Regions from separate parts of the Homo sapiens genome. Here regions 2 and 3 are each linked to region 1. Evidence: fine-mapped expression QTL. A gene starts in region 1. Each other region holds a variant in brackets. All regions are shown on one strand. Distances are between the middles of the regions.

The links.
Region 2: its variant is fine-mapped to the expression of GLS in breast (GTEx, PIP above 0.99).
Region 3: its variant is fine-mapped to the expression of GLS in whole blood (TOPMed, PIP above 0.99).

What each region holds. Positions count from the first base shown.
Region 1 is chr2:190,875,301-190,886,410 of GRCh38, forward strand. It overlaps GLS (glutaminase), which reads left to right and starts at 5,521. Exons shown (of 18, transcript NM_014905.5): 1 at 5,521-6,170. The coding sequence starts at 5,785. LOC124906110 (a long non-coding RNA gene) reads right to left here and starts at 6,688. Exons shown (of 2, transcript XR_007087791.1): 1 at 6,613-6,688; 2 at 1,036-6,268. RefSeq lists enhancers at 4,909-5,048, 6,445-7,644, 6,809-6,998 and silencers at 5,319-5,578, 5,919-5,978, 6,029-6,118, 6,179-6,488.
Region 2 is chr2:191,078,996-191,090,105 of GRCh38, forward strand. The region is part of intron 3 of STAT4 (signal transducer and activator of transcription 4); the gene reads right to left. Among named protein-coding and RNA genes, the nearest start is that of STAT4-AS1, 63 kb to the left of the region's middle. The variant G/A (reference allele first, on the strand shown) is at 4,916.
Region 3 is chr2:190,976,208-190,987,317 of GRCh38, forward strand. It overlaps STAT1 (signal transducer and activator of transcription 1), which reads right to left. Exons shown (of 25, transcript NM_007315.4): 13 at 10,832-10,861; 14 at 10,647-10,740; 15 at 9,412-9,453; 16 at 8,103-8,186; 17 at 7,435-7,533; 18 at 6,176-6,311; 19 at 4,413-4,462; 20 at 3,565-3,659; 21 at 2,649-2,794; 22 at 633-818. Among named protein-coding and RNA genes, the nearest start is that of STAT1, 32 kb to the right of the region's middle. The variant C/T (reference allele first, on the strand shown) is at 5,402.

The DNA of each region.
Region 1 (11,110 bases):
TCAAAATACATTATTGTAGACTCTGAATTTTATATTTAGCTCCATAAATAATGATTTCAGTGGAGTTCAGTAATTGGTTTCTGAATTGGTAATATGATTTTACCATTGGATGAGCATAAATAGATAAAAGCCCTGGCTCGTTTTTCTTTTTCAGGGCTTGTAAAATGTGACAAATGTTAGCTGCTGAACCACCATTAGATTTCACAGCATAAAACCAACCACAGCATAATTGTATAGGGCTCATACTTCAAATCACTGCTAATTTTCTCCACTTAACATGTCCAAATGCATATGACATACTAAACTATCAATTAAATGTCTCCTACCTGAGCTTTGGTTTTAATTGTACCTGGAAAAGAATGCCTATTGACAGGCAGTCCCACTTAGTGGTACTCTTTCAACTGCTCTGTAGGTTGACTGACTATCTTTTAGAGTTCGCCAATGTTCTTCTTCATGATACAGATTTGTATCCTGGCTACCACGTCTTCTTCATTCAAATTGGACGATATATCAGTCAGCTTAAGCTAAGTCATTCTATGGTAATAACCCTCAAGTTTAAATGACTTAAAATAAGGCTTATTTCTCTTGATGTTATTTGTCAGCCAAAGCCATTGTCAGCTTTGTTCCATAATTCTGGGACCCAGGTAAAGAAGCATCCCCTCATGGACTGGACTAGAACCAATGAACTGTGGTGGGGTGTGGGGGGAAAGAAGCGTCCCCTCTCTGGGACATGCCATTCTTGTTTAAAAGGGAAAAGAGAGATGACAGAACCAAGTGAGTTTATGCTCGGCAGTGGCATACCACTTCCTGTCACATATCATTGAACAAATCAAGGCCAAGACTGCCATCCAAGGTGAGGAGGTAAAGTCTGCCCAGTGGGAGGGACAAAAATATTTGGGAATAGTAGTATAATCTACCACAGAGGTTGTTTTCATTCTCAAGCAGGTATCCTTTTGACTGACTTTTGGACTATATACAAAATCAGTTTTTTTTAGGTTTTGCTAATATACAAGAAAGACTTTCTTAACTCTGGGCTGGGGTTTAGCCTGATTTATTTTTAATATGAATCCACAGAAAAATAAGCATTAAAATCACTTTAAAAAATTAATATTTGGAGGCCCCATAAATATAATGGTGGTGTAAATATAAACAATATTACCTTACAAACTCCACTAATTGAAATCTTTATCATATTACTCTAAGTGGAGAAAAATAACTGATTCCCACCCAACCCCCACTCCGGCCATCAGGAAACTCTCAAAAAGAACTTCATATAGTTAGTATTTTAAGGCAGATCATTCAGATATGCTGCTCAAATTTGATGAATATCTCTTGTCATTTTATATGATGTCACAATGAACAGAGGTATACTTTCATTTACATAGATGGCAAATGATATATTTTTAGATTTAATTGCTATATGTTAAGGTATTTGTATATGACATGTATATTCAAGGACTGCTTTCTTAGCGATTCTTCCTTCTCTGGAATTTTTTTTTTTTTTTAGCTATTTGTGAATAGCTGTTACTTTGGGCACTGAGCCCAGCTTTTCTTAATCTGACTGTCTTTATCTTTTTCTATTTTAAGATACTTTGAAAATTATTGGTTTATTTTCTAAAAATGAAGTAAGTAAATTATCTCTAGGTTCCCCTTAAATGGTATTTTATTATTAGATGGTTTAAAACAATTGTTTGGCTTTTCAACAATAAGTGTAAAAACTGATCACATTGCATGTCAAAATTTATTCACCTATGGTTTGATAATAACAGCTATAACACTTACAGAGTGCTACTGTCATTATTCTGGGTGCTTTATATGTGTTGTTTATTTATTCCACACAACAACCCTATAAGTACCAATATTATCCGCCCCCCTTTGTTTTTTTGAGATGGAGTCTTGCTCTCTCATAGCCCAGGCTGGAGTGCAATGGCTAGATCTCGGCTCACTGCAACCTCTGCCTCCCAGGTTCAAGCAATTCTCCTGCCTCAGCCTCCCGAGTAGCTGGGATTACAGGCATGCACCACCATGCCTGGCTAATTTTTTGAATTTCTAGTAGAGATGGGGTTTCACCATGTTGGCCAGGCTGGTCTTGAACTCCTGACCTCAGGTGATCCACCTGCTTCGGCCTCCCAAAGTGCTGGGATTACAGGCGTGAGCCACCTTGCCTGGCCATATTATCCCCTTTTTATAGATGAGGGATTTACCATACTTACTTTGGTACACATCTATATTCAGTATTGGAAAAATAAGCCATGTTTGGCAGGGCTTATCAGTGAGGCTAGGAATTTGGCCAGTTAAAGCAGGAAACCAACAGAAGAAAGGGAAGTAGTAGCAGAAGCTTGTTTAGAGGCTTCCTGAACCTTACTCTATTCTCCAAACAGAAGAATTTCAAAAAAAGGCTTAGGCAATTCTTTTAAGCTGTTAGTCAAAGGAAAATTACTTTCTTTTTAGTTCTAGGTCAACAAATAATCTACTAGTTTTTGTGAAGGCGCAATCTGGAATTTCTATATATATATATTATTTTATCTTATTTTATTTTATTTTTTGAGATGTAGTATCGCTCTGTTGCCAGGCTGGAGTGCAGTGGTGCGATCTTGGCTCACTGTAACCTCGGCCTCCCAGGTTTGAGTGATTCTCCTGCCTCAGCCTCCCAAGTAGCTGGGATTACAGGTGTGTGCCACCACGCCCAGCTAATCGTTGTATTTTTAGTAGAGATGGGGTTTAACCGTGTTAGCCAGGATGGTCTCAATCTCCTGACCTTGTGATCTGCTCGCCTCAGCCTCCCAAAGTGCTGGGATTACAGGTGTGAGTCCACCGCGCCCGGCCTATATATGGATTTTATTATGATCTTGAAACATTAGCCTTTTGTAATCTTCGACAGAACAAAGAAGCTCAGGAACATAGAAGCACAGGAACCTTTCTTCAAGTTAGAACAGACACAAAGTGCACAAATTCCAATTATTCCTTTTGATGGCTGATTACCTGATGATGGCTATGGGACAGCAACTCTTTGTAGTGTAGCTGCACTTAGGAGCAAAAAGGAAGTCGAAGAGTAGATCTGACAACCCAACCATAGTTAATGTGGAGAGCATTTTTCTATTTGTAGATATTTTGGTGGACTACTTATTGTATGTATACAAATGTTTTTATACTTTTTACATGATGATTACATGAGTTTATGTAATGATATAATTCAATTTAACATAACTGAAACTTCAAAGTTGTGTAATGGTTACAAAGTTGTAGATAAAAATATCTTTAAAGATTAAAAAATTATATAAGATGAAGAAAAGAATCAAATGAAAGTATTGAGTCACATTTTTATTCTATTTATAATAGTTTCTTTGCTGTCTATAACCTTTTCATTAGCCTTCTCAAACAAGGGGTTAAATTTCAGTGGACTCAATTCTTCCAAATTTTGGGAGTAATATCTATCCATTCTCACCAAAAGCAGAAAGTCTGGAAACTACCAGAAAATAAAACTCTAGAAACTAGAAACTCTAGAAAATAATCTGTTACTAGGTTAGCTTTCTTATTTGTTAAGTGAACTATAAAGCCTTTAAACCTTTAAATATCTAAAACAATTTTCATAAGAAACTCAGAGAAATTAAGGGAGAAACTGAGAGGAAAACAGTAACTGGATTGTCAGTTGCTTTGTGTTGTTGAGAAAAAAGAGGCAGTTAAAATTGATAACTAATTGCAGCTAATATATTGGACAATATTAAAGTCTGCAAGTCATTAACAAGTCAGGGTTAGGCAGGGGTAATATTTGTTACCTTTCCTCTGAAACTTGATGTCTCTATTCCTGAATATATCATTACTTTGATTCATCAACATTTTTGGACAAGTAACATTAGTAATAAAAGCTATCTAAGTACTTTCCCATTGTCCTGCTTTTTTTTTTTTAAATAAAAAAGGTGACTATGTTTTACACATGATAGTTTTTTCCATGTTCTTCTGGTTAAAGAGCAGATAGAAAAAAAAAACTTAAAACACGGCAAGGCTGTAACATGCCAAAGGTCACATAACCTGTAGGTACAGCCAGATTTCCTAATTATTAATCTATTGAAATATTTTACAGTTCACTAGATTACTAAATCCGGTTATCAATTAATGATGCACCTGACATACACCCTTCTAGTTTCATAAAAATCACCTCATTAGGCCGGGCGTGGTGGCTCACGCCTGTAATCCCAGCAATTTGGGAGGCCCAGGGGGTGCAGATCCCTCGAAACCAGCCTGGGCAACCTGGCGAAACCCCGTCTCTACCAAAAATACAAAAAAAAAAAAAAAAAAAAGCAGGTGCTGGCTGAGGTGGGAGGATCACCGGGGCCCCTGAGTTCAAGGCTGCAGTAAGCCGTGATCGCGCCACTGCACTTCAGCCTGGGCGACAGAGTGAGACCCTTTCTCAAAACGAACACACACAACAACACAGTAACAACACACCAACCCCCAAAACATCTTATTAAACTCTGTGGATCTACTCCATTTAAACCTAATTGTTTCAGGAAATAGTCTAAAAACATTTTTTTGTCCTGGAATGTAATGTGTATGTAGCCTCAGGGAATAACTCAGTTTATCAGGTTCTTGGCTGTTTTTCCACAGGTCCAAAAGGATAAATGGATAAAGTGATGCTGAAATAACTTAGAGAACCCGTATTCCAACGCTTCTATTTTAAAACAGTGAAGCAGTTTTTAAAATAGAAAAGTATCTACAGTTTTGCTTTCAAGCAAATAGCGTTAACGGAATCATTGCTATTCAAAACTATTTTTGAAGTATCGGTGTACATTTAAAAAAAATAATTTTTAAAAAAGAAAGCTGTCGTATTCTGGATTCCGCAACCCCCCCACCCCGCCTCGCCACTCGTCGCCCTCCCTCCACCTCCACCCTCCCATGGCTTAAGTCGCATAGCTGAAAGGATTTTGCTCATTTTTTCCAAAACACTTCACGTCTGGGTAGTAGCCAATCATGGAAAGTTTCAAGCAAATGTTACATTTGGGAGAGGGATGAAGCTTGTCCGGGGCTGCTCTCGGAGGAGTCGCCAGACGCCCTGACCTGGGGGCCAGATGCGAGCTGGGATCGGCTGAGTTCCGACAGCTCGGCCAGACTCAGCCCTGCCAAACCTGCTGACCTCACTGCCCTCGGCTGCGGGGGATCTCGCCCATGAGTCTCCCCAACAGCTCGAATTCCCAGAGTGGAGGAGCCCACTGCTTCATAAATGCGAGAACCCAGAGCCCCTAGTACCCAACTAGGCTAGCCTCGGAGTTGGCACGGCGTGCAGAAAGTGGCTACTGAGCAGCCGGGCCTGGCTCACCCGCTTCACACGTCAGTTTGACTCCTCTCCCCGCCCCCCACCAATCCCCCGCCCTACTCTCCGCGCACCCAGAGCCGAGAGAAATTTGACTGCCCTAATCGCCAATCAAAAGAGAGGTCGAGGATTTGAGCCAATCGCAGCGGGCGAAAGGGGCGGGCCGTCGGCGAGCGCTGAAGGTCTCTAGCCCTCCCCTGCGCTTTAGCCTCAGTGCGGAGCCTTAGGCGGAGCGAAGAGAACCGGTCGCGGCAATCCTAGCGCGCAGCAGCAGCAGCAGCAGCAGCAGCAGCAGCAGCAGCAGCAGCAGCACCCGCATCCGCTGCGGGAGTCCGAGCCGGAACCACACCCAAGTAGCTGCCCTTTCCTCTTCTGTCATCTCACCGCCCCACCACAGACCGCGTTCCCCGAGGAAACCGGCCGCCCACGCCCGGAGCATCCTCCCCTGTTGAGCGGGCGCTGACGGACCCGGCGGCATGATGCGGCTGCGAGGCTCGGGGATGCTGCGGGACCTGCTCCTGCGGTCGCCCGCCGGCGTGAGCGCGACTCTGCGGCGGGCACAGCCCTTGGTCACCCTGTGCCGGCGTCCCCGAGGCGGGGGACGGCCGGCCGCGGGCCCGGCTGCCGCCGCGCGACTCCACCCGTGGTGGGGCGGGGGCGGCTGGCCGGCGGAGCCCCTCGCGCGGGGCCTGTCCAGCTCTCCTTCGGAGATCTTGCAGGAGCTGGGCAAGGGGAGCACGCATCCGCAGCCCGGGGTGTCGCCACCCGCTGCCCCGGCGGCGCCCGGCCCCAAGGACGGCCCCGGGGAGACGGACGCGTTTGGCAACAGCGAGGGCAAAGAGCTGGTGGCCTCAGGTGAAAAGTGAGTGTCTCCGCGAGGCGCAGGAGGCCTCGTTCCTTTCGGGGCCCGGGCTCAGGCTGTGTGGGGCCCTGCGGTGGGGCGGGATAGGAGCCGAGGGTCTAGAAAAGAGAAAGAAAGAGGTGCCGGGCGGCCTGCGCCGTCTGCGCCATGTGATTAGGCCCGGCCCCGCCCGCGCCTTCCCCGCCCGCAACCCTCCGCCAGGCACCCACTTCCCTTCTCCGCCCCCGGCGGGGGTCGCCCTGGTGGGGCCGCGGTGGGGCCTGATGGGCTCGCCTGGCGTCCCCAGCGCCAGAGAGGCCGCTCCCCTGCCCGCGCTGCGTGCTCAGCTCCCTGGCTTGCGGCTGCAGCGCCTGGCCGCCCGCCCCAGCCATTCGTGGGCGATGCTGCACGAACATCTCCACCGAGTGACATTTAGGAGTTGGGCGTTCAGCAGAGCCTTTACCTTCCTGACTTGTCGCTTTTCCTGGCTCGTTTCCGCTCTGCCTGCCCTCCCTTGGTTTCTGCCATCATCCGGTTGGAAGCCAGATGTGACAGAGAGCTCTTTATATTTCGGGAGTGGCTACCTCAGGCACGTGTAGAGCCATCTGGGGCACCGGAAACAATGTTTCAGAAGTGAGATTAGGAGGAATCCGGTCATGTGGCCGAGAAGATGGGGCACGCAGTATAGACCACCTGTTTGCATAAGGGACCAGCTTTGGCTTGTCAGGTCTTCCGTGAGATGGGGAGATTTTTAGAAATAAAAGTTAAATAGCCAAGATGAAATGTGACGTAATACACTAACTCAGTGAAAAATCTGAGTTGAGTAGGTTTTGTGACTTCATTGTGATAGGATGTTGACTCATCCTGTATGTGTACGGCACAGTAGTTTAGTCTTAAAGCAAAACTGGTTTTTCTTAAACAATATGCAAAGCAGTCTCCTATATATTTTTGTCTTGTGTAATACAAATGGACCACTTTGTTTTCCCAAAATGGGTAAAAATTTACGGATCTGCTTTCATTATACCTTACTCTTTTTCTGGCTTTGTACGCTGACACTCTAACCTGTTTTGCTTCCCTTTTATTTCTGCTGCTATTTCCAGCTCTAGAGTTCCTTAAGTCAAACTGAAAGTGAGAACATTGTTATAATTTCAATCTCACGCCTGCTTGATGTTTTCCTGTAATTGAAGTTGGGACCTTCCAGAAACTTTTCTAAAGTTCTTCTCCCAGACTGAAAAAGATTATTTGAAAAAAATCACTTGATGATGGGCGAAATTTGTGGTATTTTGTGATGTTGGTTTTGTGCCACAAAATAGCGTCCTGACCATGGACAGGTTATTTAATATCTTGGGTTAGATGACTTAAATCCTTTCAAGTTCTAAAAAGCTATACTTCTGTTAAATTTGTACTTCTCTCATGTTTTAGGGACTAGAATGATAATTTAATCTCATCTGGGACTCACTTTTACTTTAACATCATCCGGTTTACCAAGGAAGTAACGAGTTTACATGCAAGTGCCCAAGGTACAGAATTGCAAAATGCAGTCACAACCGTTTAAAAGTTCATCTTAAAGGCTACAAGATGGGAACTGCATTCTAGTAAAATTATGTCTTCAGGTCTGTGTCTCTGCAGTGGCTCTAGTGCCTCTCTTTTTTTTCCTCTTTTGTCAAACAGGAAATTGAGCTTCTTCTGTGATTCACTTGTCCAGAAGTTTCTGGTTTCATTGCCTTTTTAATAAAAAATCACCTTTTAGCAAGGGCCTCAAGGTTGTGAAGAAAGTTTTTTAATTTGGTTAAAGTTTCTATTTCCTTAATGATCTGGTTTCCAAATGTAGCTTTCCCTCTTTGGCTCCTTTCATTTTGCCTTTATGTGACAAACATTTCTCTTATCCTGGGAGGTAAGCTCCCAGTTGATCCTGTTATCCTTTCTAATGCTTAGCCTGCAAAGCATAGGTCATCCCTCAGTCAGCAGTCCACCTGGTATGCTAGCACTCACTCAGGACTGTGCCAGATTTTATGTAGTATTATTAAAAGAAATAACCATGAGAAAATTAAATTAACATTTTGTAAAAGGCTTAGAACAATATTTGGCGTGTGTTAAATGACACATAACTATTTATTAAATAAATGAGAAAACATTGCTTCTTCATTATTGTAAAGCCTGTTAAAGAGATTGGCCTTGGAATTTCAGGCTTGCACATGAAGGTTTTTAATTTTTTTAGTTTCCACAAAAATGTTTATCTTGAGAAATTGCTATACATCTGTCTTATATGAAACTATGTGAGTTGCACTGTTTACCTTTTGCTCTGCTGATAAATAAGTTCAGAGTAAATTTAATGCTTAACCACACCAATTTCATCAGTTCACATGGCTGGGATATCTGCGTTTCCTCCTTTCCTTGGTCCTGAGTTTATATTTTATTTACTTTATATTCTGGAAGGAGGCGTGATATAAGCAAGTTACTTTACCTTTTTTTCACAAACTCTTTGAACTAATGTCACTTTAGACTATGCTGTTTCCATCACGCAACTTTAGTGTGGTTTAGGATACGAACGTCTTAATATCACATAGAAAAATTTAATGATCTTTGCTCAGTTTTGTCTTTAGTGATCTTATTTAATTTTGTTATGGTTCATTCTGTTATCTTGAAAACCAACTTTGCTTGCCTCTCTTCGTTTTCAAAATTGTTCTCTCTTCTTTCCTAGTTCTTTTTGAATTTCCTCACTGGGTAAAAACCCTGAGGCTGAGGCCTTTGTCCCTTTCCCACTTGTCTGCCTTCTCAACAGCGTATCCCTTCTTTCAGCTTTGACTCTCATCTTTGTGTAGGTAATACTTCACCTCTTAATCCAAAGCTCTGTTCTTAAATTTGTCGCCACATATTCAATGACTTCAAATTTTAAGTCTGTACCCTGATATTCATTCTTTTCTCCAATTCAACCTATTTTGCGTACTGTTATGAGAGTAATTTTAGAGTTTTAATTTGAAAATAGCACTCTCTTCCAGAAAACCAGCAGGATCTGGAATGAGCATTATATTAAAGTCACAAACTATGTTATGGTTTATGCCAGCACTTGCCCATATGGACATTTTTATCATACTTTTCTCTGTTAAGCTGGTTATACTTATTTCCATAAAGTCCAGAAGTATGTATCCTATCTTAGTGAATGGTCCCTAGGAAGAGTCAGAGGGATAGAGGTAAGGGGCATTATTAAGTTTTTTTATTTGGACATTTATTTTTTAATGAGAAAGGAAAAGAGATACATAACAGAAATTGGGCTGGAAAAATACCAGCATATGTATGTTGTTAGAAAATAGATAATTCATACAGGATGCAATATTGAAAGTATTCTGTTAAAACAACAATGAGGTCACTTTCCCCTTCTCAGATTGGCAGATGTTAAATCAAGTAATTGGGAAAATAGGAACTCTAGCATTGCTAGTAGAAGTATAAATTATTAGTTCAGTTACTTTAGGCAGTTTGGTAGTTTCTGTTAAAAACTGCATAGCTGTGATGTGGTAGTTGGATGTTTGCATATCTACATGAAGTCGTGGCATTCAGAAATATTTGTAATTACACAAATAAGCATGCTTTAAAATATATTTATATTTAAAAGTAAAAATGCAAGCAAAAATGATTTCAGCTAGCTTTAGTTAGTATGGATTTATGTTTTGATAGTTCAGCTTTATGTTTTGATAGTTATGGACAATGAAGGGCAAAGAAAATCATCGAGGTGTATACTCTGAAAATTGAATTTTTTTTTTTTGAGATGGAGTCTCGCTCTGTCACACAGGCTGGAGTGCAGTGGTGTGATCTCGGTTCACTGCAACCTCTGCCTCCCGGGTTCAAGCCATTCTCCTGCCTCAGCCTCCCGAGTAGCTGGGATTACAGGCACCCGCCACCATGCGTGGCTAATTTTTGTTTTTAGTAGAGATGGGGTTTCACCATGTTGGCTGGGCTGGTCTTGAACTCCTGACCTCAGATGATCTGCCCGCTGTGGCCACCCAAAGTGCTGGGATTACAGGCGTGAGCCACCGCACCTGGTCTGAACATTGAATTTCAAAGTAAGATGAAATGCTTATGAATTTCAGCGAACATTGAATTGGGTAGATTGAACAATACTAGTAAGGAAGTTGAGTTAGTATTTGGCAGATATAAATATTAAGTTTTAGAACTGAATGACAAAACCTCTGTTAAAATGGGGGCACATGTTTTTATGATCCTTCAGTATTGCATTTGGTTTTAATTTTAAAAGCTAACATATTTACAATTCACTTAAGCTAAAATCAAGGTGGAAAGTATGTTTAATTTTTTCCTTTGGGCTTCTCAGGCAGCCCCTTAGTTATTTTTGATTTCTTCATTATTAAAAATTTTTTTCTAGGTGATGATTATCAGTGAGTTTTAGTTTTTTTTTTTAAATTTTATTTTTATTTATTTATTTATTTTTGAGGTGGAGTCTCACTCTGTCACCCAGGTTGGAGTGCAGTGGTGTGATCTCAGCTCAATGCAACCTCTGCCTCCTGGGTTCAAGTCGTTCTCCTGCCTCAGCCCCCCATGTAGCTGGGACTTACAGGCACGTGCCACCACACCTGGCTAATTTTTGTATTTTTAGTAAGATGGGAATTTACCATGTCAGCCAGGATGGTCTCGACCTCCTGACCTTGTGATACGCCTGCTTCGGCCTCCCAAATTGCTGGGATTACAGGCGTGAGCCACTGCACCCAGCCCAGTTTTGTTTTTTTAAAAGCAAGTGAAAAAGGTACCAATAACTATATGTCATAACATTTTTGTGACCTAATATTTATATTGAAATGTGCATCAGTCATTGATAACTTTGTCCATGATCTGTAATTAACAAACTCATGCTGTTAATTTATAGTTTTATTAATATTTGGATGAAATTCACTGAAAGAACAAGAATTAGATTCTGAGGGGTTTAGTCTCCTGGACTTTTAGCTGCATATTTC
Region 2 (11,110 bases), 200 kb after region 1:
CATTTACTGAACATCTTATTCTTTTACCACTGCTCTGCTGGGCCAGCTCTGTCATAAATCAAGTGTTCCTTTGTGGGTGGGCTTGTTTCTGGACTCCATTCCATCTTATGGTTCTCTCTCTGCTTCATCAATAGATAATCTTTTTGTGTTTTTTACTACAGCTTTATAGTAAGTCTTGATGTCAAGTAGAATAGGTCTTCTTTATATTTCTATATACATTTTAGAATCAACTTGTCAAGTCACGCACACACACATATGCACACCCTGGTTGAGAATTTGAATGACACTAAATCTTTAGGTAAAATTTAGGGAGACTTGGCATCTTTATACTTGTGTTCTAATCTATTTATTTATGTCTTCTTTAATGTTTCTCTATTAAACATTATAATCTTATATGTGTTTCACTGGGTTTATTTCTGTAGATGGTATTTTTTGATACTAGAATAAATATCTTTTTCCTCATTGTTTTTGCTGTTATATAGAAATATAATTAATTTTTGTATATTGATTTTGAATCCAGCAACCTTGCTAAACTCTGATTCTAATGCTTTTGTAATATCTCTTATTAATTCTAAAATTATATCTGTATATTCTTTGGAATTTTCTGCATATACAAATCATATATCATGTGGATATTGATAGAATTTTCCTCCTTTTTAATCATCTAACTTCCATCAGGATTTCATCTTTGTCCTAAGGTGACTTATTTAAAAATGTATTTGTTAATTTCTATACATAGGGATTTTCTATTTATCTTTTTTTTACAGATTTTTAGAATAATTTAATTTTAATCAGAATACATTCTCTGAATGACTTCAATCATTTTAAATTTGTTGAGACTTGTTTTATGACCCAGCATATTAATATCTTGTAAATGTTTCATGTGAGCTTGCAACAAATATGTATTTTGCAGTTGATGGGTACAAATGTTTCATACAGGTTTATTAAACCATGTTTGTTAATTGTTTTGTTCAAATTTCTGCATCCTTGCTGATTTTTCTTTGCCTGATAGATTTTTGCAGTCATTGAAAAAGGTAAGTTAAAATCTACTCTGTGAATTTTTCTTCTTGTGCTACTGTCATACACATTTAGACTTTTATATATTAGTGGTCAATGAAATCTTTTATTACCATGCACTGACCTTTATCTCTAGTAATGCTTTTTGCCTTGAAACAAAAATACAAAGTATACCACAATGCTTTTTATCACTTAGAATTTTTATTTTTTCTTTATTGGTAAAACTCTTGATTTATTTCAACATAGATATATATATTTACTAATATATCAGTATTGTGTACATATATTAAAAGGGAAGTATATGTGTAATAAATTGGCTAATGTCTTCCTAAAACTACTTCACTTTAGAGTTCAATTTTTCTGAATCTCCTTTAAACTTAGATTTATTGGCACTCATATTTTTCCATAAAATAATGTCTTCTGGGCCATCAAGCATGACAGCAATGCATATTTCTGTAGAGTGTGCACAATTATTGTCTTCATTTTGTAAGTTTTGATGCTGGCACTTTCTTGATCTCTCCAAAATTTCTCAGTAGAAGGTTTCAGACAAGAACCAGGACTCATATTTTTTCTACATATGGTTAAATGGTTTGTTGACTGAAACATTAAAGAGTTGTAATAGTCTAGTCATACCATCATGATAAACAACCACATCACTAATAGATGAGATTCGTATTTAACTTTTCAGGCAGATGTCCATGGAATCATTGAGAACCAGAATATATGGTAGATTCTCAGATGTCTATTCCAGAAGACTTCTAATCAGTCGTCTGTCACCACAGTCATTATCCATCCACTATCGTGTTTCACTCTTAATAATACCTTTGAAAAAGTTCTTTAAAATTTTTTTTTGTTATACTTTAAGTTCTGGGATACATGTGCAGGTTTGTTACATAGGTATACATGTGCCATGATGGTTTGCTGCACTCATCAACCTGTCATCAAATTAGGTATTTCTCCTAATGCTATCCCTTCCCTAGCCCCCCATCCCCTGACAGGCCCTGGTGTGTGATGTTCCCCTACCTGTGTCCATATATTCTCATTGTTCAACTCCCACTTATGAGTGAGAACATGCTGTGTTTGGTTTTCTGTTCTTGTGTTAGTTTGCTGAGAACGATGGCTTCCAGCTTCATCCATGTCCCTGCAAAGGACATGAACTCATCCTTTTTTATGGCTGCATAGTATTCCATGGTGTATATGTGCCAAATTTTCTTTATCGAGTCTATCATTGATGAGCATCTGGGTTGGTTCCAAGTCTTTGCTATTGTGAACAGTGCCAAAATAAACATATGTGTGCATGTGTCTTTATAGTAGAATGATTTATAATCCTTTGGGTATATACCCAGTAATGGGATTGCTGCGTCAAGTGGTATTTCTGGTTCTAGATCCTTGAGGAATTGTCACACTGTCTTCCACAACGGTTGAACTAATTTACACTCCCACCAACAGTGTAAAAGTGTTCCTATTTCTCCACATCCTCTCCAGCATCTGTTGTTTCCTGACTTTTTAATGATTGTCATGCTAACTGGCGTGAGATGGTATCTTACTGTGGTTTTGATTTGCATCTCTCTGATGACCAGTGACGATGAGCATTTTTTTCACATTTGTTGGCTGCATAAATGTCTTCTTTTGGGGAAGTGTCTGTTCATATCCTTTGCCCACATAAAGTTCTTATTCTTAGACATTGTTTTACAGTTACACAAATTAAATATGGTGGTGACTTCAGCAATCAGCAGTTAGACATAAGATCATAGTGACATGCTGCTTTTGATACCCCAAATTCATAATCCTGGACTCCTTGAAGTTCCATTTGTATTGGCAGTATGATTTTAAGTCTTGCCAAGGAAAACCACTCCCTCATCCCTAGCATTACCTCTTTAATTAAACACATATTATCATTTTTCCTCACTTGCATCATGCTGGAAGTTAAGTGTACCCTGCTCAGTCAGCAGGATGTTTCTGATAAATTGATGTTGTACATCTTAATGATAATACTGTGCAATGCATGAATCATTCACTCCAGGGTCTTATTGTGCTGAGATTTCTTTCATCTATTATGAGGAATTTGGCAATTTCTCTTGCCACTGTTGCTTTGTGTATGACAGGCAATCTTTTTTGCATTAATTTCAGTAACAAAATATAATACAACTTTATCTACTTGTGAGCATCTTCCTTTCTTACATCCTATAAAGGATTTTATTGTTGCTTTCCAAGAAAACTTGGAATTTAGGGTCATCCATCTAGTGACAAATGGTTGCTTCACAAATATCAAATTTGTACCCTGCTGATTTGTTCCCGTCCCTTTCTGCATACATAATAACTATTTGTTTGAATCCTAAATTATAGTGTTATATTTTGATGACATTTTAAACAGCAATTAAGATCAACATATGTTGCACCAACAGTGCACATAATTCGATTGAAGTGACAACAACATGATAGCTTTGACCCAGTTTCACATCACAGGCAATGACAACGATGTTGTGATTGCCACATGGCAACAGCAATTAAGAGGTGTTATTGATTATAATATGCATTCTATTTCAGAGATTTAAAGATGTTAAAATGTGGAGAACAGTGTCATAGAATCCATGAACATGCTATTTATTCTTTTTGCTACTTTATGCTAAATTTCTTGGCTTTCCTTCAAATTCCCCTTCCACAGCCTTTCTATCTAATTTCCAAATTTGACTTGTCATTAAAGAGTAACTAGTTCATCTGCTCTTTTTCTTCCAAATGGTCCAAGAAGTTCCAGAGTCAGAAGTAATAGATGTGAGAAGCCCTGTTCAAAATAATCTTCTTCATACAGGCGACATGGAGCCTGAAACTTCACAATTAGGAATTCACTCCTCTGAGTTCTTTTCCCAGTGGCCCTCTTAAAAATGTAAACACATTTGGAGGGTTAATACCACATTTAACAAATTTCTTCTGTATTGTGAAGGATTTTTCAGATGATGTTCTCTGACTGTAGTGACCTGGCAACTGCAGGATGAGAATGATAGGTCCCAGGTCAAATAAAGGGAGAATTTTCTAGAGGGCCTGAAACAGGAGGCATTAGTGACCAAAGGGGATATAGGATTCTGAGGAAACACATAACCAACAACTGTCCTAGCTTGGGTTTCTTCAGAAACTGACCTTGAGACAAGGATTCCAGTGCAAGTCGTTTAAGTGGGAGTTGGTCCCACAAAACACTGTTATGGGAGTGGGCAAGTGAGACGAGGAAGAGAAGGGAGCCAGTAAGGGTGTGCTGTTAGCCATTTGCTAAGATGGGCTGAGAACCCTTGAAGTTGGTATGGAATATGTGACAGAGTTATCTACTCAAGGACTTTGGGAACTGGAGTATTTTCACATCAGCTCTTGTCATCTATCATTAGCAATGAAAAAAGATGGGATACTGGCCGTTGGATTTCTACTTGACTAAACTAAAATGATAAGGCCAAGAAGATGTGAACAGGACAGCCCCACCTCTGCTGTACCAGCTCTTCTCCTAACCCCAATTTGAGAACTTTTTGACTTCTCATTTTTTTAACTACCTACAACCATACTTCTCTCAAATGTAGATATTTATTCTTTGTGGTATCTCTGGGATATGAAGCATTTGTCTCCATTTACAGAGTAAAATATTTTCATTCACATTTTTGAATTAGAAATGTGCAACCTACTGCGTACTTCTGGTTGCCAACTAGCTCTCTCTCCCTTTGCATCACAAATACTGCTGTTGAGTCATTTTTATCTTTATTCCTCGCCAATGTCAAACACACTGGCCTGTGTGGGTATCAAACTGACTTACTCATAAATTAAGTAAATAAGCCCAAATGCCTTTCAAGTTCGCATGATTTTAGTAATCTTTGATGAAAAAAAGACAGTTTTAAAATTATTGCTAAAATAAAACAGCAAT[G/A]TCTTCAGAATTTAGACATTTGGCCTAAATTAGTCCGTCTTTGATAGGTGTTTTAAGATATAGAACTTTGTGGCTGGGTGTGGTGGCTCACGCCTGTAATTCCAGCACTTTGGGAGGCTGAGACAAGCAGATCATGAGGTCAGGAGTTCGAGACCAGCCTGACCAACAAGGTGAAACCCCGTCTGTACTAAAAATACAAAAATTAGCTGGGCATGGTGGTGCGTGACTGTAATCCCAGCTACTTAGGAGGCTGAGGCAAGAGACTCGCTTGAACCCAGGAGGCAGAGGTTGCAGTGAGCCGAGATCATGCCATTGCACTCCAGCCTGGGTGACGGAGCAAGACTCCGTCTAAAAAAAAAAAAAATAGAACTTTTTTTCTGACACTTGCTTAACCTGTCTATAAGCTTATGTTCTTAGAGTTGAGCCATTAGGATATGATGAAGCCTAGTTCTAGGGATGGTTCTTTGATCTGGGCTCTGCACCTGGTACATAATTAAAATTACTTACGTCCTAAGTTTTTCACTAAAAATGAGTTATTAAGAATTGACATTACAATTAATACATGTAATTAAAACTACTAAATACAAAGTACATAAAAAAAGGTAAAGTGTATTTTTCATAAAGTTACAAGAAGGCATGGGGAGGTGGTTTTATTAAAGGAAAATTAATTTTCTCTAGTTAAAAAGTGTTTAAGGATTGTTTTAAGTTAAAATAAGGAGAAAACTGAAGGTTTAAACAAGTTGTGAAAGGTTTGAGAAAAATTAATCTTATAAAAAAATTCTATATGTGAGCAAGTTAGCTAAATTTTAAATGGACTTTTTTAGTTTTTCTATAAATTAAACATTAAAATAAAAAGCATACTGACGTAGGGCCAGAATCTAGGCCTTTGTGTTAGAATCACAGGATTTTCTTGGAGCACTGATCTACTCTTTAATAAAAAATTATAAAAATATAAAAAGTTTATGAAAATCTTACCTTATGGCTCAACTGATTAAGGTTTATTTATTCATAAGGTTTTATTAAAAATAGCTTTAGCATTAATAATATACTATACAAAGGTAAAAAAAGTAGTTTTTCTCTCGAACAAGATTTTTGTGTAATATTAGAAAATAGTAAAATATTTTTATCTTTTGAGTAAACTACCAAAAAAAAAAAATGGGAGAGAGAAAGATTTTGTTGGCCTCATGCTATCTTTATTAGATTTTATTGTTTGGGAAAGTAAGTCTCCTCTCTGCCAAAGAGTAAATGTTTCTGCTCTTTTGAAATCTTTGAATTATCATTTTGGCTAAATAAATTACTTATTTTATAGTGACTTGTGGTCCTATTTGTGATATGAAGTATTTAAAACCTTTCATATTTGACAATTCAAAATCAAATTCTAAATTCAGTCTTTTGTCCTAAAACTAACTTTTCAGAAGTCCAAGAGAGACATATTGATCTTACTTGATATGTTAAAGTCATATAGGAAACACTCCCAAATATAAAATGGTGTTTAACTTTCTTTGGGTTAAATATTTATATTTATATTATATTTATATTAATGTGTTATTAGTATGTATTCCAAATTGTATGAGATTCTTATGATTCTGATATGTCTATGTTATCAGTAGTAATTATAATTATTATGTAAAATTGTTGAAAGCCACAGAAATAACCAAATTTCCTTGGCAATTGTGTCTTTAACTGTGGATGTTCTAAAACTTTTGTCATCCACAAACAATTGTTTTATGTTGATCCTTTCAAAATTGGTTCAAAGTCATCTCAGGATTCTGACAGGTGCTCTTGAATGCAGGTTTCTGATAACTTTGGAGACAGTGCCAATGGAATAGAGAGAAAACTTCCAGGACTCTCAGGGAGAGCTGATGTGTTCATGAGAATTGCTGACCCAATATCAAGTAGAACAGAAGTTAATTGCATGGACTGAACTAATAGAAAATTTAAATAATTTTATTACTTTTTTTGTTTCAAACTTTACTGATTCTTTTTTTGTTTTTCAAAGTCAAGAAAACCTTTTTTTCATTTGAACTATTTACAGCTTTTAACAACTGAGTAAAATATATTCTTGTGAGCAAAATTTGAAACATATTTCTTTCTCCAGAATTTGGAAACTATTTGTGAGTATTCTTAATTTATGGCAATAGTTATTTTCATAAGTTCAATAATAATAATCTCTTTTCTTCTGTAAGAGGACACACTGAAGACACTGGCTATTTTACCAAGTCTTTGGTTGCAACGATATTTTCAGATATGAACAGATGGCTTTGAGGAATTGGGATTGATGTACAGAGCCCATAAAAGCCCTTTGGAAAAACTGGCCTTCTATCTTGTCCTTCACAGGGTTCTTGACCTGTGATAAGTAAAGATTGTCACTTTCTGACAGGCCCGGGAACCTCATAGGACCTCAAGAAGAGAGGAATTCACCCAATTCATACAACTATCTGCAAGCATAGATAAATCCTTGGCTGGGCTTGAGGCTTTTAAAAGGTCTAATTTGAGAGTCCTTATTTTTAAATAAAAGTTCCAGCAAAGCTAATTTTAAAAAGAGCCTGTATAGCAAATAATTACTTTCAATGCATTTTATACAAATAATCAGACCAAGTATAATTAAACTAAAACTTACTGTGCAAATAAATTACTCCTGCTATGATGTTGTCTTTAGTAAAATTGGGGGATTGGAAAGAGAAAAATTATGTTCCAAAAGAAACTGTAGTATACTTGTTATCAGATTCTAGCCTTGTCTATTCTTTTTCAGTTTTTAGTATTTGCTACAATTTAGATTGAGTTCTGAATTTTTCTCCTGGCTATATATCTCCAAACTAATATTTTCAATTTTTTTCTCCCATGTTTCTGACTTGAAATTGCTAGAAATTAGAACTGCTTTTCTTAAAGCTTCTCAAACTGAAGCTAGGCAATTTAAACCTCAGGAGAAAATAACAGCAACTGTTATTTTAACAACCTTTGTATCTGCCTGCTCATGTTTGGACTTCTCAGAAAGTTCACTTGAACATCTGGTTTGAACTACAATCCAGAAGAATCTGGATTGCAGTGGCAATCTGAAGTGCCTCAGAGGCTCTAGAAAACTAGTATAGAGACTGATTGCTCTTGACATTCACCTTTGTTTTTCTTATGTTTCTATAGAAATGCCTCTTATTAGAGATCTGATTGTCTACCTAATATAGAAGCCTAACCCATCTGCAATGTCGCCTCCTGGAATGTGACACAACTGTTTAACTGAATTGATCTATTCTCAGGACTAATATAGTGATGAAAGAAGATATGAAACAATATATTTAAATTTGCTCTTTTCTATTTATCCCAATTTTTCTTTCACTCCATTGTCTGTCTCCATTTAACAACCTCTAAACCTAAATCTCTCCAAAGCTATCAGCTTGCCTTTTAATGCGTGAAACCTGTTTTAAGTTTCAAAGTGGGGACTAAAGGAAATTAAAATATTTTACTCCCAAATATATTTCTTTGATGTGTTTTAAAATGGTTGCAGCTTGGCCAGCTAACAGAAGTGGCCTTGCAAAGCTCTTTTGTGGGAAAAATTTGCATCTGTAGAGAATCTCCATTAATGCAACCACGCTCCCTCCCCTTTCCATCCCACTACCCCATCCAGGACAGAGTAAGAGTCTGAGGCCTTTAAAAATCTGAAATGAAACATTTACCATCTACTCTGAGGGAGGCTTCATTTACATAACAAGGCCACCTTTGCTGGTCTTGTTATGACCAGCTTCTTATTATTTCCTTCTCTTTATTCTGAGTATGTAATTTTTCTTAATGGCTTCTACCTAATCTTTCCTCACCAGAATCAAAAGGTTATGTCTACGGTGAAAAAAACAAACCCACTAAATTGAAGAAGAGCTGAACTAGTTGTCTTAAAGCTGATTAAAATAGAATGGCTAGTCTAATAGGTTTTAAAAAGCAATTGACTTTCATGATAAAAACTCTGAGTATACTAGGAATAGTGAAATTTCTCAACTTGATAAAAAAAAAATGTACCAAAAAATCTACAGGTAATATACTTAATGGTCAGAAACTAGGTGCTTTTCTGCTAAGACAAAGAACAAGGCAAGGTAGGCTGAACTCACCACTCCTATTCAGCATCATATTGCAAGTAGTAGCTTAATACAATAAGGTAAGAAAAGGAAATAAATTCTATACAAATAGGGAAGGATGTAATAAAATTTTCTTTGTTCACAGGTGAATTGTCCACATGTGTCCATAGACACAGTGACTGTCTATATAGAAAATCCCAAAGAACAACAACAAAAAAAGCCTCCTGGAACTAATAAGCCATTAGAGTAAGGTTATAGACTGTAACATTAAGACACAAAAGTCAATTGCTTTCCTATTGAACAGGAACAAATCATTGGAATTTGAAATTGAAAGCACAATGCTACTCATATTAGCACAAAAAATGAAATACTTAGGTATAAATCTAACAATGTGTGGATAAGATATGTAAGGAAAATGATAAGACTAATGAAAGAAATCAAAGAAGAACTAAATAAATGAAAAGATATTTCATATTCACTTTAGGCAGAAATAAGCAGAATAAAGACTGTATTGTCAAGATGTCAGTTATTCCCCACTTATCTATAGATTCAATGGAATTATCTACAGATTCCAATCAAAATACTAGCAAGTTATTTTCTGGATAATGACTAATTTTAAAGTTTATATGGAGAGGCTAAAGAGCCAGATAGCAATGACATTGAAAGAGAAAACCAAAGTTGAAGTGACTCCACTCAACTTTGGGACTTAGTATAAACCTATAGTAATCAAGACAGTGTGGTACAGGTAAAAGAATGGACAGATAGATCAATGGAACAGAATAGACAGTTCTGAAATGGATCCACGTAAATGTACTTAACTGACTTTTGACAAAAGGGCAAATGCGACACAACAGAACAAAGGTGGTCTTTTCAACAAGTGGTGCTGGAATAGCTGGATATTCAGCTGGATATGCAAAAAGTGAATCTAGACACTGACCTTTCACCTCCCACAAAAAATAAGTGAAATTAACTCAAAGTGAACCACAGACTTAAATGTAAAATGCAAAACTATAAACGTCTTAGAAGATAACAGAAAATAATCTAGATGACCTTGGATTTAGTGATGACTTTTTAGATACAACACTAAAGGCAAAATTCATGAAACGACAGATTGATTAGTGGAAAAATTTCTGCTCTGTGAAAGACACTGTTAAGAAATGAAAATGAAAGTCACAGGCTAGGAGAGAATATTGGCAAAAAACATATCTGATAATGAATTATTATCTAAAATATTTTTAAAAAGCAAGAAAACAAACTCAATTTAAAAATGGGCCAAATACCATAATAGATGTCTCACCAAAGAAGATATATAGATGAAAAATAGGCATATGAAAAGATGCTCCACATCATACGTGGTCAGGGAAATGCATACTAAAATAACAATGAGATACTGCAATGCATCTATCAGAACAATCAAAATCCAGCACACTGATCACACCAAATGTTGATGCGGATGTGGAGCAACAGAAACTTTCATTTGTTGCTCGTGGGAGTGAAAAATAATACAGCCATTTTCAAAAACAGTTTGGCAATTTGTTATAAAACTAAACATACTCTTGTAATATGATTCAGCAATTGCACCCCTTGGTATTTATCTAAAGGAGATGAAAACTCATTTCTACATGAAAACCTACACATGGATGTTTATAGCAGCTTCATTTATAATTGCTGAAATTTGAAGCAACCAAGATATCCTCAAATAGGTGAATAGATACACTGCAGTCCATCTAGACGATAGAATATTATTCAGCACCAATAAGAAATGAGCTATCAAGTCAGGAAAAGATATGGATGAAATTTACATGCATATTACCAAGTAAAAGCAGCCAACGTGAAAAGGCTACATATTGTGTGATTCCAACTATATGACATTATGGAAAAGTCAAACTATGGAGACAATAAAAAAGTCAGTGGTTGCCAGGAGTTAGAAGAAAGAGAGGGAGTGGATGATGAATAGGTGGAGAACAGGGGATATCTAGGGCAATGAAACTATTCTGTATAACACTATGATACTGGATACATGATATTACACATTTGATAAAACACATAGAACATATAGTGAGCCCTAATGTAAATTATGGGACTTTAGTTAATAATAATATAATATTGTAATAATATAAAATTGTAACAAGTACAT
Region 3 (11,110 bases), 100 kb after region 1:
CATTAGCCTGGCTAATGAATATTCACAGCTGTCAAGGTAAGCTGGGGACATCTTCATTCCAAAGTAATTGTCCTAATATTGAGATTTCTGATTCTGAAAAACAGCTTTGTTGGTGTGTTCCAAACAAAACAGGTCTAATTCGAACCTTCTCAAATGCAATTCATTGACAACTGAGAAGCAAGAGACCTGTGTTCTCAGATGAGGCCTCCTCTTAATAATTATCTAATAAAAATAGGATCTAGTAAGTAATTGGGCCACCCTAAATGAACCACTTCACTTCTCCCAGGCCTCAGTTTCCTCAACTTTAACGTGAGCAAGATGCCTTCTGTTGGTTTACCACAGTTCCTTATTTAAACCCTTTTCATGTGGAAACAGTGATAGTAACAAATACACAAGACCAGCAATGGACTTTTCCAACATTCCTAAAATAGGAAATTGTCCATTCATTTCTTACTAGCTGTATCAGGCCAAATAATGCATTATGTTTCACCTGCACTGAGTTTATGCCATCTTTTGAAAGCCTACTCTTACCAATTCGAAAGCAAAACACTGCATGGGTGGAGTTTCAGAATAATCACCCCCTCATCAGGAAAGACTGTGCCACGCTGTTACCACCTGCTTGCCCCACTTACCTTCCTTTGGCCTGGAGTAATACTTTCCAAAGGCATGGTCTTTGTCAATATTTGGATACAGATACTTCAGGGGATTCTCAGGAATATTCTCAGCAGCCATGACTTTGTAATTGCGAATGATGTCAGGGAAAGTAACAGCAGAAAGTTCTTTCTTCGTGTAGGGTTCAACCGCATGGAAGTCAGGTTCTAAAAAGGAGAAAAGCTAAGTAAATCCCATAGAACATCCCAAAATGAAAGAGGACAGAGAAATAAAACACTGCAGAGTTGATGGATTTGAGTGAACCTCATAAGAACTAATCACAATCTAAGCATTATAACATATACAGTAGACTGCTTTATTTCTAAATAAATTATAATACTGTCTCAGGGAAAATAAAGGGAGGTATTATTCTCAATAACATTCTATTTGCCATTATTTGCTTAGATTTATAAATCTGGGCAAAAAAGATTTATTAAAAACCTTTAAAAGCCTGCATCTTCAATGATGTGCTGCCCATAGGCACATAAATAACTTACTACTAAGTGGATCATCTTGGCTTAAGCCACAGATTTAAATTACTAGAGATAAACTCACTTTGTTTTTCTTTTCATATTGAAAAATCTAATTTTTTATTAAAATAAATTATGATATATAGAAAACAACATTTCAAATTAAAAATGATCCTATTTGCTACATTTCCCTGTAACCCTTAACGTAATAAACCATGGTTTAATTTACTCCCGTTCTTATTCCCAGACTGAATTCAGATCCTTCTTCCTAGCTGATACAGAATCTCCCTTTGGGTGTCGACCTTCCAGAGGCCACGGTTCAGGTGTTCTGGGGAGCCTGCTGTGGAACATGAGACTATGCTGCCATCCTAACCCTTCCTGGCTGGTAGTGTCCTGCTTGACCTTTCCTGGTTGCCAAGGGTTTTCTTCATCTCTGCTTGGTCTACTATATCTGTCTCTCAGCTGGTTCAGGAAGGGAACAGGATAAGAGGAAAAGGGCAGGTTCTAATGACTACTGCCCACGCCAGACTCTCATCTCAGCCTCCCTGCTTTTTCCTCAGAAGAAAAATAGAACAAGAAAAGTATTCCAGAAAAACAAATAGAACAAGAAGAGTATTCCTGAAAAATAAACAGAACAAGAAAGAATACCGTTCCAGAAAAAAAAAATAGAAGAGTATTCCAGAAAAACAAACAGAACAAGAAGAGTATGGCAGAAAAACAAATAGAATAAGAGTATTCCAGAAAAACAGGAGAAGAGGAATATTTCAGAAAAATAAATAGAACAAGAAGAGTATTCCATTTTGTGTCTACCCACTGAAAGTATAAAAATTACTAAAACAAATCAGTTTTTCCTCCTGCCCTTCAAACAGACCAAACTCTAAACAACAGTGAAAAGTAATCAGTTGGTCTTTATGATTTTTTCATTTACGCTGTTGAGCTTCACCCTCAGAAACCTGCTTCATAACACCAAGGTTTCTGGAGTCTTTTAGCCATGGACTCATTTGATTAAATAGAAACCCCATATATGATAAAGATAAATTTGCAGCTGCTCTGTTTGAAGGCAGGGTAGAGGCTGCCACTCGTCCCAACAGGTCCTGCATCAACTCCCTGGCTGATGATGTGTATGAAGTCTTCTCCCGAAGCCTGTCTCATCTGCACACTCTACTCTGGGATGACCCTAAGAGAATGTGGATGCTTACTCCTGTGGGAAATGTGATTCCTTCCAAGAACGGGTTGCAGATTACATTGACTCACATCCTTGATCTGCAGATAACAAACCTGATGCAAAGGAAAGAATTGGCATTGTCTTTTCAAAACCATCATTTCCACAATATGTTCCAGAGAGTGAACCACAACCACAAACATTTGTGGTGGTTTATTAAATCCTATCGGGGGCTCATTTGGGGTAAGTATAAGATCTGCAATTTCATGTCCCAAACGCACTATCTGTATGAGCTGACTGGCGGCGATGAAGAGGGACTTCACACACATGGAATGGTGGGACTATGTGCTCAAACTCCCACTCACCGCCTCCGTTCTGGGACCGCTCCACCCATGTGAATGTGATGGCCCCTTCCCGGGAGCTCTCACTGAACCGCAGCAGGAAGGTCCCCGGCTGCTGGTCCTTCAACAGGGCACGCTCTCGCTCCTTGCTGATGAAGCCCATGATGCACCTGGATATCGAAGAGATGGACGGATGGGCTTTTAGTTCAATCATGATTTCCATTTTCATGCTAACTTACAAACCAAGAAAATGGCTGGAATGTGAGAAAAAAAACCTACGGTAAAAAACGTAGACTATTTTAAAATCTGTTCAGTTGACACTTAAGGAAGCATTTCACTTATACATGTATATACTAAGGTTTTAAAAAAAGCGATATGAACATGGTGTCAGTAGGATGCTACAGATGCTCAATAACACGTGTGGGATTAATGAGCCTTTTATTGTTCCTTTATTATTTTAAAGGCCATAACAATGTCTGAATGTATACATCTTTTTTACTGGAGAGGAAGACCTAGGCAATATATTTTCATATTTTAGCCCTTCTGATCAAGTTAAAGCTTCTGTTGAAATATCAGCCGATCCTGGCAATAAGTCAAGATAGAAATGATTTACCCAGTTAAAAGGGTTTTTCTTCCTTCCTAGGGGCCACATAGTAGGTGCTCAAAAAATTTTTGTTGAGTGAATGAATGCATGAATGGCACTCAAGAGTTGTTTTTTTTTTTTAATTTAGCTTTGCCAATACATATACTTGTACTAAGAAAGTGTAAGGTTAATGTTATGAGGTTCTACTCTTCTGAAGCCCTGAAGGGGCAGCCTATAAATGCGCACTCCTGTGAGATTCACACACGCCTAGTCAAATACTGAAGCTGGACTCAGGCCTTGTCTCAACCTCGCAGCACTAAAAATATGTTTCAAAATACATCTATCGGTGGCCCTTACCCATCATTCCAGAGAGGGAGCAGGTGTTTTTTAATGAGTTCTAGGATGCTTTCAATCCAAAGCCAGAAGGGAAAATTTTTATCATTTATATTTTCCTGAAAGTATACAAATGCAGACATTATGAACAAAAATCTAAAACAATGACTTACCATGGCCCCTCCCACCATCATTTGCAAAGACTCCCCAGGTGCCAAGGATGGAACTGTCCCATTCAGCACAGCAATGGGATCCCTCCCCTGGCAGGGAATATCAAGTTCCCTCCCCGCTCTTATCAGCATTCAGACCAGGAGCTCTCCAGAGCTCTCCACTTCCCTGGGCCGGGCTCTGCTTCCCTTTCCAAACAGTAGCAAGCTAGCCTGGGGGTGACCTCCAGCGTGACTCACGGAAACACAAGCTGCCCCACACTAGCAAAATCCAGCAGTGCAAGCTGGTCCGCACTGTCTGGTGACTCCAGCAGAATCTAAATGTTCCCCGCAGTGGGCCCCTCTGCTCGAGCAGGCCGTTAAACTCGTCTGGCTGGTCAGGCTGCGCCACCCAGCCCACAACATACATTTCACACAGAAATGGCTAAAACACTGCTGGGCAGGGGTCCAGCGTGAGTGAACAGAAGCCTCATTTCAGATATGAAAGAATGTTATCACTCAGGCAGGTGCTTCCTGTCAGACTCCTGCTCGGAGACCAACCTCCTGCACTGAAGAAAAGTAAACAACTTGCCCGAGGGGCTCCTTGGCCAGAGAAGAACACGCCAAAATAAGCAAACAGTTAAGTAACTATCACAGCAAGAAACATGAGAACCTCAACCAAGAGCAAAAAGGACTTAGAGAGCATAAAACCCAGACAGTCCTCACCTTACAAAACCTCGTCCACGGAATGAGACCATCGGGGCTGGCGTTAGGACCTAAACAAATAAAAACCAGATTTTTCAGCAAACAGAAACTGATTCTAAAGCTTTGGTTGGACGGATGGCTCTTGTATTTGCTCTCAAGGAAAAGAGCCAAACACCCAACAAAGATTGTATGTACACAGTTGACATTTTCGGATACCTTAATGCCAAATTAACTGAGCAATTATAATACGTGCTGTAAGAGGGCGGAATTTAAATGGTCTAAAATATGTATATGTTGGTTTGAGTTTAATGGCAGAAAGGAATGGATGGCAGATTCCTGGGCACCACGATATGAGAGTTTTTAGGGAAAGCGGAAACATCACAAAGCCTTACCATCTGCTCTCTCCCTCCCCAGCCCCCCTTTTCCCTCCCTCCTCTAAAGAGAGGACAGTCCTTTTAATGCCTCTTCATGTTACACTTCCTTCCAAGACCATCAGCTGACTTTGCCTTTTGCACTAAATCAAAGGTGTTCTGCTGGGCCTCCTAGAGAAGCCTCCCTATCCAGTGCCTCTTCCCACTGCCTTCCTCTGCTGCTCAGCAGAGCCCCCTCTCCCAAGGATCCTACAGAATTTTTTTCAAAGTTCAACCTAGGTGCCCAAGATCACCCCTAGATCTTCAATGTAACTGATACTTGACTTTACAAGTTTATTTTAGACATTATTTATGCATTTCCCTCAGCTTTCCTCCAAATAGGACATGGGCTCAGGCAGTCTGATGCAAATCAAAAACCAAGTGAGAGAAACGAGAGGAAGAAGCCCGGGGTTATTAGCTACACAAATTAAAGCAGCCTGGGCGAGAAGAGGCGGTAAGCCCATTATCGGTCTTCAAAGAGAACTACAAATGAGCCATTACAGCTAGAAAAGATATCCTTCTTAACTCTCACCAAATAAAGAAATGGAATAAGGGGATTTTGTACTTGTATTAAACAGCACAAGACCACCACTGTGACAG[C/T]TGCATATCCAAGAGAAGAAGGCACTGTTGAAAGTCACTGAGTTAGGAAGAGCCTACTGCTGTTTGGAGTAAATGCAGTGCTGCTCTACAGAAAGCAAATCTGGATACAAGTTGTCCACGGATTTTTAAAGAAATAGTTCAGATAGCCTCACTCACTGAAAGATCTGACCTTGAGACTAGTGGATCTTTGATTTGTTTAGTATGAAGGACTAATAAATGCACTGACATTAACCACTGAAAGGGAATTATCTACCACTGTCTAGACTCTGTCCAATCAGGCAAAACTGCAGATCAAAAGAGGCATCCTCTTGTGGGGACGGCATCCTCTGCTACCTGGGCCCCACCTGAGGCAAGGGCCCTGGGTTTATGCTGCAGTGGGCAAGCCCCAGGACTTTATTTCTCATCATGTCAGGGACTTCCTTTTTTCTCCCCAAGGTTAATGGTTAATAGGCCTTCATCTTTCTCATCCAGGAACTTATTTCAGCCACAAATAATATATTTTACATAATTCATAAAACTTTCCCTTGGGAATTCATCTCAGAAATCTTAATATGAGACAATGAGGAACGGATTCATTTAAATGTTATCAGGTCTATATTTCTTTCTAAGGTGACATATGATTCTCACTTAGCTATAATAAACTATAGCTTGAAAAGCTGACAGATTTTAGTACTTTTTTACCTTTAACAAAATAGCAGAGGGGAAAAGAGCAATTAGAGAGATATTTTTATGAATTTCAATTTTTATAAACATAACAAGTTAATATGCATATACCAAGAAGCTTCTCTCCCAACATGTTCAGCTGGTCCACATTGAGACCTCTTTTGGTGACAGAAGAAAACTGCCAACTCAGCACTTCTGAAAGCTGAGCCCATCGTGCACATGGTGGAGTCAGGAAGAAGGACAGATTCTAGAGAGAAAACACCCAAAATCTAAGGGTTACTACAGAGACACCAGTCACAAGTGTGGCACTAAAACATATGTCCATCCCAAAGTTCAATTCTAGTTTATATGACACACAGGTGCTTTCACAGTAGGGGAAGAGAAATACAGTCAATTTTCATTATTTACAGATGCACATTTGTGAACTTGTTTACTCACTAAAATTTACTTGTAACTCCAAAATCTAAATACATGGCATCTTTGGGGTCATTTGAAGACACACCCGTGCACACACAGCAGCACACAGCAGCAAAGAATTCGAGTCTCTTAACACGCTTCCAACTGAAGCCAAACAAAATGACACTCGCTTCCTGTTTCACCTCTCATAAGAAAAACGTGTCCTTTTTGAAGCCTATTTAGCGCCATGTTTTTTGCATTTTGTGACTGCTGTTGGTGATCCCTGTTTAAAATGGTGCCCGAGCATAGTACCACAGTGTGGTCTACTGTTCCTAAGCATGGGAAGGCTGGGATGTGCCTTATGGAGAAAATACATGTGTGAGGCAAGCTTCACTCAGGCATGAGTTACAGTGATCCTAGCTATAGGTGTAATGTTAATGCCTCAACAAGTGTATTAGATAAGGTGTCTTTAAACAGAAACACACATAAACAATGTTATGCATTGATGGGTTGACAAAAATGTTGTGACCAGAGGCTTGAAGGAACCTAGCCTCGTAGTTCCCTTAGGAGCAACAATTCATTATTTGCTAGTTAAGTGTTCCTGGTGACTTTAAAAAACATAAGTACTTTGAATAATTATAAATGACTGTAATTAATTAACAGTGAGTATCCACACTCTAAGAATGGAGCATGCTTGTTTAGTAGATGTATACATTTTAAAAATAATAACAATAAAGTGGTATGGAATCACTGACTGCCCTAGCTTACCCACATGGGAGAAAAAACGTAATTCTCATTTCAAATACATATCCATGCTTCATATTCCCAGATTTACTCAAAAGCCTTAGAAATACCACAGGAGCTTTGTCACTTCTCCCTTAACAACTGGCCATTGGGGCTATTTCAGAGATGCAGCAGTGAGAGCGTGGGGTCTCTGCTTAACCCTGGGACCAAAGCAAATGTGTTTTCCATACCCTGGGTTCCGCCACCAGCATGTTGTACCAAAGGATGGAGGCCCAACCGCTCGGGAGCTGGCTGACGTTGGAGATCACCACAACGGGCAGAGAGGTCGTCTAAAGGATGACAAAGACCTTGAAATCATCTGAATCACAGAAATGTCACCTTCAGATAACTGCTTAGCCTCAACTAAAAGCAGGGGATTATTTGTAAATTTGTACATATTTAATACTTGAAAATGAGAAGTGTTAAGTTCTGTTCTTCTGTCCAGTTTAACTTGTCTTTGATGTATCTTTCAGTTAAGAAATAAGTCCCTAAAAATAATAATAGCTACAATAATTAATTAAGGGATATGCAATATGAGAAGATGAAAACTGTCACAATGAAAACATAAAATGTGGGGGGAGGGCAGAGCAAAATAAATAAGTCCCAATGCTTAATGTAAAAAAAAAAAATTAACATCAGCGATCTCAACTGGAACTTTTAAGTTATTGAATTTGAAGGTTAATTCAATTGTCTAGCTTTCTGGACCATAAATTAAGGTTAAGATAGTATTAGCTGAAAAAGATCATTTTAAAACAATTAGGTAAATACCTCCAGAACAAACACTGAGAAATAAAAATACATGTAACAATTAAAAGTAAAAATAATGAAGTTTTCCAACTCGGGACCATAAAAGTCTTACCTCGAGGTCAATTACCAAACCAGGCTGGCACAATTGGGTTTCAAAACTAAGGGAGTGAAGCTCTTCAGTAACGATGAGAGGACCCTTGGAAGAGAAAAGGAAAGAAGAAAAGAATATAATTATTCACAGATCCTAAAACTTTCAAAAGCCCAATTAACATTGCAACAGGCCACAGAGATCCTGGGCCCAATCAGTGGCAAGTCTGAAGACTCAATATTCAATCTCTCCCAGATTTAATGATTCTTAGTATCTCAGTGTGCTCTGAAAGATAAGTGTCTGAAGTTACGGCAAGGGTTATAGATTCAGAGCAATGATTGTCAATGGGGAAAGAGCAACTAATGGCTTTGTGACCTAAGGCTTCTCGACCCTCAGCTCTGTCTGCCTGCCCAGTGTGGCTGCACATCTCAATGCAGATGGGTGGGGAGAAGGTGAGAGGACTGGGAGTAAGTGCATACTTGTGATTGTCTACTGCCTACCGGAAGGGCTGACTCACATCAACTTGGCAGGTCACAAGTTGTCTTGGTTTCGGTAGAAATGGATAGATTTCAAAGTGCCTTCATAAGCATTACCTCATGTGAGCCTCACAACTTAGAACTAGAGAGGTGCAACAGCTAGACCCAGGGAGGTCAAAACATAGTTCAGGCGCACACCAGGGCTAGAAGGCATCTTTGCACTGCCTGGGCCTGTGTTTGTCCCGCTGCTCCATGTGACCTCCACTGGTCCTGGTGTGGAAGGACTGCACACTGTGTGTGCATAAATGACGAAAGTGTTCTCAACCAAAACAACTCCAGATATTTCATCCTTTGTCCATAGTTCATTTCTGAATGCATCACAAACCCAACTCCTTAAGGATCACGCTGTAGGAAGGAAACTGATGCAAAGGCAATGCTTTTGGTAGGGGATGCAATGGCCGAAAAGCCCTCTTGGCACACAGCAAGGCAGTCATCAAAGTGGCCTCTCGTTCCAACTCTGACAGTAACTCTGTGCACCCTTAGCTAAATCCTGCAAACTTCTGTGAGTCAATTTCTTCACCCGTAAGATGCGAAGAATACAAAAGCCCACAACAGCTACTCCACTGAGTTGTCCATGAGTGTCTAATGAATTTGTGTGCAAAATCGTTTGACAATAGTAAAGCACAAATGTGGTGTTTTTACTGTTGTCACAGATATACCAAATACCCAGCTCCTTTGCTGCTCTTCCCTGATGGGTCTGAACTCCTCTGTGAGGTGTCCCCAGCCACCAACTGACCTGTCCTTGCTAGACAGACCTGCCTGATTTGGGCCCATTCACAACATAAAGGGACTCTCACCTCATTCGTTCTGGTGCCAGCATTTTTCTGTTCTTTCAATTGCTATAAAACAAATAATCATCTTAGTAAACACCATGGTAATGGTCAAAGTTGCTATCTTCATTTACAAATGAGAACAAAGTTAGGACTAGAAAGAATGACAGACGTGACTTTATCTTTAGAATGCAGAACATGGGACAAATTGGCCCTCGTTCAGGGTCCATGAGCAGAAGCACGTTTCCTCAGTGGCCTCATGGTGCGGACACCAGTCTGGAGGGATCTCTTGGAATCACAACCCGCTCCTCTCCTGTGTTCAAACTTTCCCTGAATGTTTCCCCATGCACCTTCGTTAACTGTTTCATGCCCTGAGGCTCGGGACAGCTTCTCCCTCCCCTTTCCCTCAGCAGAGTCCTCCAGGCTGGGCCCAGTGACTCCAGGTCCACCTGCCCTCAAGTGGACGTCAATCTCTGAGCTGTCAATCCCTGAGCTGACGAGGGAGCAGGCTGGGGCCCTGAGGGCGGCTCTGAATACCCTCAGGCACCTGAGTTGGGCTAAGCTTTCGAGTTAGGTAGAGCTTCCTAGCTACGAGGCTTGCTGGATCACAAAGTGGTCTCTAGTGAAAAAGGATGCCTTTAACCTCCTGCAGGTTCTGGGCCCAGGGAAAGCTTCGGACTCAGCACCCACAGAGCCTCACAGCAACTGGCAGCCCCCATGTTCACAGAGGAGGAAAGATGGTGCACCCACACAGAGCATCCTGCTGGGTCTCCACTGCCTGGGGAATGAGCCCTACTGCCCTGGAGAAAAGGTGGTAGAGTCAGGCTGGCGTGGAGGCAGGGGCTGTGGGCAGGGCCACCAGGAAGGGGAACACGGGGGCTGAGGAGTGAACCCTGGTGTACAGGACCACACTTGGATCACAGTCAGGACACGGGAGCCATAACCTTTGAGAAAACTGCAAGCGTAGGTGAGTGACCGTGGGGATCATGCAGGCAGCAAGTGCAAATCATTTACGTAAACACAGGCTTAGGAAATATTTTTACTGCAAGTGATACAGCCCAGAAAACAGAGTGAACAGTCGTGGGATAAGGAGGAGAAACCAAAATGCCCCAAGTACTGGCGACAGGAAGACACCAGCCACAAAGTCTACAAACCCCAGCAGGGGGGCGTCCTCCACATGGCAATGTGCCAAAAAGGGCTGCTCTATTGTCAAAAGTCCTAAGAAACCAGAGACAACATAGAGAGGAAACTGATGTCCCTACCAGGTGCCGAAATTCAGCCGCCAGACTGCCATTGGTGGACTCCTCCATGTTCATCACTTTTGTGTGCGTGCCCAAAATGTTGAACTTCCTAAATCTATACAATATAGGAAAGAAATGCTGAAAAGTCTTCCAACTATTAAATAAATAAAAATATAGCACAGTATAGCGTAAAGTACGTCACGTACCCTTTTACTGTATTTCTCTCATTCACATCTCTGCAAAAAAAATATATATAATCACATATGCGTATTTAAAATTTGAAATAAGCTTTAACAAAATTATAAGAGTATAAGAGCATAAGAGTGTAAGTGAATGATGAATAAAAAATAAATCTACACCTATGGATTTGCAGCCTTTCATTCACTCCCTGCTTCCATCTACCCATACTAGGTCTGGCAAGTATCACTGAATGACCTTTGGCAAATAAATGGTCTGGGCCTTACATTGTTCATTTGCACAACATA